Linked DNA regions of Homo sapiens: region 1 is linked to region 2. The links come from fine-mapping of genetic effects on gene expression. Tissue or cell type: whole blood. Region 2 holds a variant in brackets; the other region holds the start of a gene. All regions are shown on one strand. Distances are between the middles of the regions.

Region 1 (5,123 bases), 140 kb after region 2:
TCAGTTCATGATGCAGTCAACTGGAAAAGCCAATGAAGTGAAATGCAAAGGTATATTTGTATGTCTTAAGTTGTTTTTTAAAGAATAAAAACAACAGCCAACCAAAGTGCCTTGAAAACCTCCATCTCTCTGAGGTTAATCAATTCTCTTTGTTTTAGAAGCAAGTCTAAAATAAATAGTTGTTTTAAAATAAAAACAGCAATAAAGGGCTTTTTAAGATAAGCTGTGAGAGAAACTTCCGAGCAGGAGACACCTCTGGAAAGCACTGTTATGGGTGCGGGTGAAAGTACACATTCTGGGGATCGTCTCAGAAAACATTAGCCCTTCCCATCAGCTGTTTTCTGGTAGCCTCACAGATACTGGTTCTCTCTACAAGTCCATTCCAGGACAGTATATTTCTGGACGTAAGATGTCAAAGACTAGTTTCAGAAAAACTAGTCATCCCCAGAAATGGTGATAAAAATAAGATACTAAGATCATGACAGGGTCCTAAATGATACCGTTCCATTTAGTTGGTTTGGATAGGAATTTAAAAAGCCTTATTTTACCTTGTAACATAAAAGGAGGGGGATGACTAGTTTTTCTGAAACTACTAGTTTTTCTGATACTGTCATGATCTTAGTATCTTATTTTTATCACCATTTCTGGATTCCCAGTCGGATGTAGGATATTAAGCGCAAAACTTTGGGAATATAAGACCTAACACGCAAAGTCAGAACAATTCATCCAGTTCTAAGCCTTGTGTTCAAATTTGCTATGAGCATCTAAATTCATGGTTCTGAAAGTATTTTAACGGACCACCTGCATCACCTTCCCCAGTGTCTTTTATTATTACTATTATTATTATTATTATTATTATTGAGACAGAGTCTTGCTCCGTCGCACAGGGTGGAGTGCAGTGGCACAATCTCTGCTCACTGCAACCTCCGCCGCCTGGTTTCAAGCGATTCTCCTGCCTCAGCCTCCCCAGTGGCTGAGATTACAGGCCTCAACCACCACACCTGGCTAGTTTCTTATATTTTTGGTAGAGACGGGGTTTCACCATGTTGGCCAGGCTGGTCCCGAATTCCTGACCTCAAGTGATCCGCCCCGCCTCTGCCTCCCAAAGTGCTGGGATTACAGACGTGAGCCACCGCGCCCGGCCTCTTCAGGGTCTTTTCATGTTAAATTAGATTCTTAGGACCCACTTCACACACCTATTCAATAGGAATTTATGAGCTAGAGCACGAGACATGGCATTTTTAATACGCCCCTGGGGTGAGTTTAATACACACTTTAGTTTGAGAATCACTAAATTAAACCCACAGACTTCTTTGCTGTTTTGTCCCCAAGATATCTATCTACGTGGAATGTCAGTCCCTTCTCCCTTCCAATCTAAAGTTATTTCCTAATTAGACGCAGTAGTTAACAAATCCTCCAGTTCCCCACCAACAGCAGTTTAAAAGGAAGCAAGACGTTAGGAAAGATTAAAGACTGCACGATTTTAAGTGTTTGGGGGCCTCTGGCACATCCTAGAAAGAATCATGCAAGAAAGAACAAGAGTAGCTAGTTCTCCATTGGCTCAGGACCAAAATGATCCCTTCCCTCTCTTCTTCACCTTAAGCATGAGCAACATCTCTGGCAATTCCGTGGCACCCATCAGATATGATTTCCTCTGGCGACCCCCAACCCTATTTAGAGAATGTCCCCTCTTCACAGAGCTGCCTCATGATTGGTGTGAACACATTTCACATACATCATCAAACCCACACACCCGACTACAGTCCCATGGCCTCCTCGGACTCCCGGGACTCGCTGCCGCCTCTGCTCCATCTCTAAACTGGGGCTCTGACCCACAACGGCGCACGCGCCCGCCCCCAACTCAGAGCAACTTTCCCCACTCCTCGGATTAACTGCTACCCTCTCCGAACGCCGGCCCGCCCCAGGTCCGTCAGCGCACACCCCGGTCCCCGGGGTCCCGCTCCGGGAACTCCGGCCCTCGGTTGCCCCTGGCTCCCGGTCCCCCAGCGGGCCCCTTCCTCCCCTCCTCAGAAGGATGCCCTCCCAAGGTATCCCAGATCCGGCCGGCCCATGCCCGGGGACCCGGCCACACGACACGACTGCCCCTTTCCGCCTGCCCGAGAAGACTCGGGCTTGTTTTGCAGGGCAGGGGTGCGGTCCGTCCTCCGATTTGCCTCTCCTGCCCTCTCTCCCTCCGGGCTGCCCTCCTTACCCGCCTGCAGCCCGGTTTCGGCGACATCGCCTGCAGGGCCGCGCTCGGCCCCGCCGCCGCCCGTGAGGGAGGAGAGACAAGTGTGGTTGTGGGAGCACTTGATGTCGCGGAAGAACTTCTGGGTCTCGCGCAGGTTCTGTCGCAGCCGTCCCAGGTAGCGGCGGTAGCGGCCGAAGCCCCGGCACAGCTCGCGGATCATTCCGCCGCCGCCGGGGCCGGGACCCGAGACGGGCTCGCTGCCCCATGGCACCCCGTCGCCCTCCATCGCCTCTGCCCGCTCTGTCTTTGCGGCTCGGTCCCCGGCCGCAGGCCCGGCCTCCCTCCTCCCCGCCCCCCAGTGCCGAAGGGAGGAGGAATCCGCCTCCTGACGCCCCCGCCTGCAGTCAGCCTGGCTCCCAACCTCCGTCACTGCCGTTGCAAACAAACCAAACCGCAGTGCGCCGCTATCGGAACCTTTCTCTCCACTATCCAGAAGCGTGAGGGAAGGATCGCTGGAGGACACCCTCGCCGCGGGGTCTCCTGGGACTTGCAGTCCGGGCTGGGACCAAACGCCAAAACCTCAAGGCTGGAGAAGGGGAGGCTGTGGATGGGACTGATCCCTTTTGGAGAAAACCCTCACTCGTTCTTGTGTTTTCGCGCTCTCTTCATTTTAAAAAGTGTTCCTAATCCCTCTATGAGCGTCCCTGAGGAGAGGGAGGAGCTGCAGGACCTGAGTGCCAGCAGAAGTGGGGGGGCCTTACCGAAATCGTAGCGAAAGATGTTAATAGTAGAGAAAAGGAAGGAAACAAGACTGAAGACAGTCATCTCCATGGCTACCCTAAGTGGCTCTCTAGTGTTTCGGATACAGTAGATACTGGGGAATCGGCTAAAAGTACCCTGGAAATCGGCTGAAAGTACCCTGGAAATAGGGAAATCTCTTATATTTGCATTGCGTTCCCCTTTTCCAACTTTCCTTCTCCAGACTTGGAAAGGAAGGGTGTGAAAGGATCAACAAGAGCTGTAAGCTGAACTTCAGTGGGTTCCTGAAGTAGGGAGACCGGACTGGGTAAGGGGAAGTTGAGGTTTGTAGCCTTCCAAACTATTTCTGATTATCTTAACTTGGTTTCTGCTAATATGGAGGACTTTCATTGACACACACAGTCACAGACTCCTGGACACAATTACAAAGGGGGCAAAACTTGACGTCACCTCTTTTGTGCTTCCTGAATTATCTCTCCCCTCTTCACCAGGCACAGAGCCCATCTGTATCTTTCTTGCTATAGAAAGACACCGTCTTTTACCTAGGCCAGACTTCTTCTCTGATAGGCTACATGATGTAGTTCCTTGACTGAAATTAAGAGGAGATTTGAGTTTGGATCTGGACTCTTCCTATACCTTGCATTGTGATCTCGGGCAAGACCCCGTTTCATCTTCTATAAAGTAAGGGTTTAGAATGGCAGATCTTTAAGCCCTTTTGGTTTTAAATTTTTGTGAGTCCTGCTTCAGAAATTTTACTTCTCCTGACCTCTCATCGCAGAACACCCAGGTGTTCTTAGCCAAATGATGTCGTGATATTTGGATTAATTGTTGTAAGATGTGAAGGCCTTACCTTTCCAGGGGCATTAGCATTTTATAAAAAGGGGTCACTAATTCAAATGAATCTGTATTTGATAAATGTCTGTGAGGGCTGACTGCAAGGAGGGAGCCTCATGCTCCTTCCCATTTACCCACTCCCCCTTCTGCCTTTTACTTGGTCACGTATTTTCCATCAGCCATTCTTCTTTTGCAAGATTATATTCCCCATGCAATCCCCAAAGGTTCAGTAAAATAGAAATGAAAATTAAAAATGGGAATTTTAATACAAAGTAGATACTATTTTTAAAATAGAAGAGCTGTAAGAAAGCAATGTGTAATGATTTGCCACACACACGAATTTCTAGCACAGGAGATCAGATAAGAGCACTCAAGCTGGAGTTATCCAGAAAAGGAATCTATCTTGAAGAAGGGGCAAAATTTAGATAGGTGGAAGTAATCAGAGAGGGCATTATTTCAGGTAAATATCACAAAGCCCACCCTTTTAAAAACTATTCCTTAGTACTTTGCATTTATTTTCAAAATAAGTAATACACGAATGTGGTATAAAATTCAAATGGTGCAAAGGATATATAAGGAAAAACTAAGTCTTTCTTAGTTTTTCTGTTCACCTCCCAGTCACCTAGTTCCCCTCCCAGGAGGCAACCACTGTTGTAGATATAAATCATGTATAAATAGATCCTATATATGTATTTATATATGTGTATGCATGTATTTTAAATACAAATGATAGCATACGTAATACATATTTGATTATGGCCTTGCAGACTTCTGTACCAAAACATAAAGGTCTGTTTCATTCTTTTTAACTGTGTAACATACTACCACATGGATTGGCATGTTTTATTTAACAAGTCTTCTATTGGCGGACCTTTAGGTTTTTTGCAGTCTTTTGATATTAAAAACAATACTGCAAGAACTAATCTATGTACATCATTTTGAATATGTGTAAGTATATCTCATACCTATTTTTGATCTGTTGAGAAAGGCAATAATTTTTTGCTATTTAAAATCTTAAAAAATGCAAGTGACAATGAGCCCTTTGTAAATCATAATAACTTACCAATTAAAATACATATTTTCTTCAAATATCTAATTCAAAGGACAAATGGAGAAAATAAAGTTTTGAACGGTAAGAAGAGAGGGTTTAAGTTGGTATAGAAAAGTATTTCCTGGCTGGGCACAGTGGCTCACACCTGTAAACCCAGCACTTTGGGAGGCCAAGGTGGGTGGATCATGAGGTCAAGAGTTCGAGACCATCCTGGCCAACATAATGAAATCCCGTCTCTACTAAAAATACAAAAATTAGCTGGACGTAGTGACGCATGCCTGTTGTCCC
Region 2 (5,202 bases):
AAGGTACTGAGTGCTTAGTATATGGCAAGTACCGAAGTGAGGGCTGGGTAGATAAGGGGTGATTCAGGCCAGTGCCTGCCCTCTGCACCCAGATGAATAAGCGAATGCTGGAATATGGACTCCCTGGTGCCTTGCAGATCCTGCAAACATCGAGGGCAATGCCGAGACTGCACAGGTGCTGGGCCTCACCCCCTGGATGGACTATGAGTTCCGGGTCATAGCCAGCAACATTCTGGGCACTGGGGAGCCTAGTGGGCCCTCCAGCAAAATCCGGACCAGGGAAGCAGGTGAGAGTCCTGTGTGTCCCAAAAAGCTATCATCAGGGCAGAGACCCTGGCACCACTTATAGGGAATGCCAAGCCAGCCGCAATTATGCTGAGTTCCAACCCTGCTCACAGGGTTCAGACTCTCACAAAACAGAGGAGGACAGAACACCAAGTTGGGACCAGGGCCACTGCATGGACAAACCATCTAGTCCAAACTCCTCATTTAAAAACTGGCCAACCTTACAACTGCATGTGCATCTATAATTTTTTTAAGTTTAATTTTTAAAAGTGGAAAAACCAAAGTTCGGAGAAAGGAAGAGTCACATTGACAGAGCTTGGACTTGAACCCAGGACCATGGGGTGGTAGACAGATGTCTTCCTGGAAGAGTATGCACTACAGAAATCAGTTAATGCTGGCTGGGCGCAGTGGCTCAAGCCTGTAATCCCAGCACTTTGGGAGGCCGAGGCAGGCAGATCACCTGAGGTCAGAAGTTTGAGACCAGCCTGGCCAACATGGTGAAACCCCGTCTCTACTAAAAATACAAAAATTAGCCAGGCGTGGTGACACACACCTGTAAATCCCAGCTACTCGGGAGGCTGAAGCAGGAGAATCGCTTGAACCCGGGAGGTGGAGGTTGCAGTGAGCCAAGATTGTACCACTGCACTCCATCCTGGGCGACAGAGCGAGACTCCATCTCAAAAAAAAAAAAAAAAAAAAAAAAAAAAGAAAGAAAAAAAGGAAATCAGTTGATGTGAAAGATGTGTGTGTGTTCTGTGCAGGGGGCTAGGGAAGCAGCCAGTGTCTCCAAGCCTTTAGATGGTTTCTTTGGGAGCAGATGGAATTGAATAACCTGCCCACAACCCTCAGCAAAAAGCGTGTGGGTGTCAGAACTTGAGTGGAGAAGGAGGGGGAGAAAAGAACCCAGGAGAGAGTAGGGGAGGCACAGGCTCCAGTCAGCATCTGCTGAGAGGCTCCTGCCCATCTCCGAGCCATTCGCAGGGGAAGGCCTGGAATGAGAGCCCGGGGATCCTGGGACCAGGAGCATAGATTAAGGACCCTGCCTCACCTCCTCTACAGACCTGTTGCACTGGATGTGTAGTGAGGGTCCACCTTCTTGTCTGCCTGAAACATGTTCTCCTACATGCCCCAGACTGACTCTCCAGGCCCTTTTTCTAGAATCACTCAACATTTTTAGCTGGTACCTCTCCTGAGTAAGAAATTCCAGAGGCAGCACTTTCTTTGATTGATCCTGAACTTCTTGGAGGGTCAAATGTGGAGAAATGAGGGGACTCCTTTATTCTATTTACAGCATCCCAGTAGCTGAGGAGCACAAAGACAGCTGTGATGCAAAGGAAACATGATGGGCTTTAAAATGAGAAGGGCTGAGTTCAGATTCTACCTGTGCCATGTATTAACTGTGTGACCTTAGGCAAGTTGATTAACTGCTCTGGGCCTCAGTCTTTCCACCCTGAAAAGGGCAATAATAACACCCACCTCACAGGATCAAATGGCCAATGTGTTTAAGTACCTCTTGCAAATTACACGGTCCTAAACTATTGTCATCAGAAGCAAGTGAAAAATCTCCAGCTGCTGGATTCTCTACGGAAATATTTTGACCCCCAGCCAAGTTACTTTCTGCCAAGCTGCAGGAGCTGATGAAATAAATTCCTGTTTTAATATCAGCCTTGTTTAATACTAGAGACAATTAGGAGATTAAATCTGCAACAAAAAGAAAAATAGATAATATATCACCCTGGAGCCCAAAAGTAGTTTGTTTTGTTTGTTTGTTTGTTTGTTTGTTTGTTTGTTTGTTTGCATTAACTGCAGTTCTGGGTTATTTATTCCCCTTATTTTAAAGCGAGTGAGAGTTGGTCTCTGTGATTTAGTTTAAGTTGATGGAGTAAGGAGGACAATGATCATGTGTGCATCATCTGCTCTATACTAACCACCGTCTTGTCTAATTTCATTCTCATTATGGCCTCTGAGAGAAACATGATTATCTTCATGGAGAAGAGAATCAGAGGCTCAGAAAGGTTAAGTGACTTGCCCAGGGAAGCACAGCTAGTAAATGGCAGAGGTGGGATTTGATTTCAGGACTGCCTGACTCCAAAGCCTATGTTCAGAGGGACCACTGGGGGGCAAACCCAGGGCCCAGTTGAAGGGGTTCCCATCTTACGGTGCTCTACAGGCACAGGCTCAGGGCTTTCATTTTTTCCTTGCTCATTAACAAGCCATATCGGTGTCCCTTGGCCCTTGACAGCCCCCTCGGTGGCACCCTCAGGACTCAGCGGAGGAGGTGGAGCCCCCGGAGAGCTCATCGTCAACTGGACGGTAAGCTGCAAGGGTCAGATGTCCTCCTCCTCCTCCCTGAC[C/T]CCTCTCCCGCTTGAGCAGCTGCAGAAAGGACCACTGCACAGCTCTGACTCAAACGCGGATAACTTCCTGTCCCCCTTCCACGCACCCGCTGCCCCTTACGCGAATCCACGCTGCAGGCGTAGGCGTCCAGGGCCGCTACTCTTGGCAAAGGTTGGGTGGGGCCAGGGAACGGGCAGGGACACATGCCGCGGACCCTCGCCCATGCCATGCTCTTGCCCCTCAGCCCATGTCACGGGAGTACCAGAACGGAGACGGCTTCGGCTACCTGCTGTCCTTCCGCAGGCAGGGCAGCACTCACTGGCAGACCGCCCGGGTGCCTGGCGCCGATGCCCAGTACTTTGTCTACAGCAACGAGAGCGTCCGGCCCTACACGCCCTTTGAGGTCAAGATCCGCAGCTACAACCGCCGCGGGGATGGGCCCGAGAGCCTCACTGCACTCGTGTACTCAGCTGAGGAAGGTGGGCTGCCCCTGGGCCCCCTGCTCGTCCCTACCCCAGCCACTTGTCCACAGGGATGTGGGGTGGGGGAACGCTACTCATCTCCCAGCTCAGTTCCATAGGAGGAGGTTGAGAGGACACCTGGGTTCCACATCATTGGCCTCACTTCCAGCTCTTGCTACCTTGTCTCCCTTCGGGGTTAGGAAAAGGGAGGCTCTCTGGGAATAGAAGTGGGCCCTGGAGCATTGCTTGGGGGGCTCCCACTCGGCCTTCATCCTGAAGGCTTTCCTCCAAAATCTTAAGCAAAGGCAATCCTGGTTGGGGGCTGCTCTGCAGGACACAGGGGGGCCCTGGGAATCCAAACCCATTCTGTATTGGTCCCCAGAGCCCAGGGTGGCCCCTACCAAGGTGTGGGCCAAAGGGGTCTCATCCTCAGAGATGAACGTGACCTGGGAACCCGTGCAGCAGGACATGAATGGTATCCTCCTGGGGTATGAGGTGAGCACCAACCTGGGACTTGGGAGAGGAAGGGGTGCTGGGGCTTCAAAGCCAGGTGGGAACAACTCACAGACCACTAATCATTCCTCCTGGCGTCCCTGGTTCGCTGACATGGCAAACTGAGCATCCAGTCTGTGTAGCACTGTGAATGCAAATTTCACTAAGACCCCATGGCAGGCCAGGCGCGGTGGCTCATGCCTGTAATCCCATCACTTTGGGAGGCTGAGGCGGTAGATCTCCTGAGATCAGGAGTTTGAGACCAGCCTGGCCAACATGGTGAAGCCCCGCCTCTACTAAAAATACAAAAATTAGCTGGGCATGGTGGCCCATGCCTGTAATCCCAGCTACTCAGGAGGCTGAGGCAGGAGAATCGCTTGCGTTCAGGAGGCAGAGGTTGCAGTGAGCTGAGATTGCGCCACTGCACTCCAGCCTGGGTGACAAAGCGAGACTCCATCTCAAAAAAAAAAAAAAAAAGACCCCATGGCTTATGCCCATTGGGGAAGACAGACCCTGGAGGCAGCCTTAAAGTAAATGCTTGGCTAGAGCCAGCATTGGAAGCTGAGAGGGTAGAAGGAACAGGTTCTGGGAAGGGGCATGGCCTGCCCCTTTCATCCCAGAGCCCATTCAGGCTGGCCTGTCCAGGGCTGCACAGAAAACAGCCTGAGCCGCTCTATGGACAGTTGATCATCCTGTCCCGGGGGAATCTGGGGCCCAGCAGTCTGGCCTGAGTCCTGGGCCCACTGAGAACTCCACAAAGGGGTACCTGTGGAGCAGATGGCAAGTGATGGGAAGCAAGAGGGAGAGAAAGAAGGAAAAGCAAGAAGAAACCATCAAGCTGGGCCTACTAGTGATAGCACAAGTTCATTCTAGTAGAGTACTCTAGATTTGAGTACAATAGCTTAGGCAAGCCACAGTGTGGAGATAATTCCAAACTCTGCCCTTGCCTCTGCCTTTGAAAGCATATTTAGCAGGTCTTCATGCTATGATTACCATGAAAATGGGTTTGCATTTATTAGGCAACCTTCAGAAGCTTGCTTAGGGCCAGGGGACTACTTTGCAATACAAATAAGCATTTTCTGTCCCTTAGCAGAATGCCCACGGTAGCCCCCCAAGTTAATGAAATGAAATGGGTTCCAGCAGGCCATTGCTAGGTTGAGCCTGTGCCACCAGCTCCCTCCCTGACCCATGTCTTGAGCACCTTCCTTGAACTACGCACCAACAGACAGCAGGGACTCACACCCACATGGCCCTGCTGTCTGGGTGCTCATGATCTAGTCTCCAGGTTCTGAGGCCTAAGACTGGGTCACAGGGACCAGGATGAGCAAGAGAGGAACAGAATGTGGGGGCCGGGGCAGCCCTGAGATCCTGGGCTTGACTACTACCCCTTGGGTACCCCCGCCTCCTTCAGATCCGCTACTGGAAAGCTGGGGACAAAGAAGCAGCTGCGGACCGAGTGAGGACAGCAGGGCTGGACACCAGTGCCCGAGTCAGCGGCCTGCATCCCAACACCAAGTACCATGTGACCGTGAGGGCCTACAACCGGGCTGGCACTGGGCCTGCCAGCCCTTCTGCCAACGCCACGACCATGAAGCCCCGTGAGTCTGTCTGCCTGGGGTGGGGGTAGGGC

The links. PIP is the estimated chance that this variant, and not a neighbour inherited with it, causes the effect.
Region 1: it holds the start of DSTYK, and the variant in region 2 is fine-mapped to the expression of DSTYK in whole blood (INTERVAL, PIP 0.91).

What each region holds. Positions count from the first base shown.
Region 1 is chr1:205,209,059-205,214,181 of GRCh38, forward strand. DSTYK (dual serine/threonine and tyrosine protein kinase) reads right to left here and starts at 2,644. Exons shown (of 13, transcript NM_015375.3): 1 at 2,213-2,644. The coding sequence starts at 2,477. RefSeq lists silencers at 1,974-2,023, 2,444-2,573, an enhancer at 5,030-5,123 and a cis regulatory region at 5,102.
Region 2 is chr1:205,066,964-205,072,165 of GRCh38, forward strand. CNTN2 (contactin 2) reads left to right here. Exons shown (of 23, transcript NM_005076.5): 16 at 138-287; 17 at 2,528-2,598; 18 at 2,864-3,098; 19 at 3,463-3,575; 20 at 4,984-5,170. Among named protein-coding and RNA genes, the nearest start is that of TMEM81, 15 kb to the right of the region's middle. The variant C/T (reference allele first, on the strand shown) is at 2,640.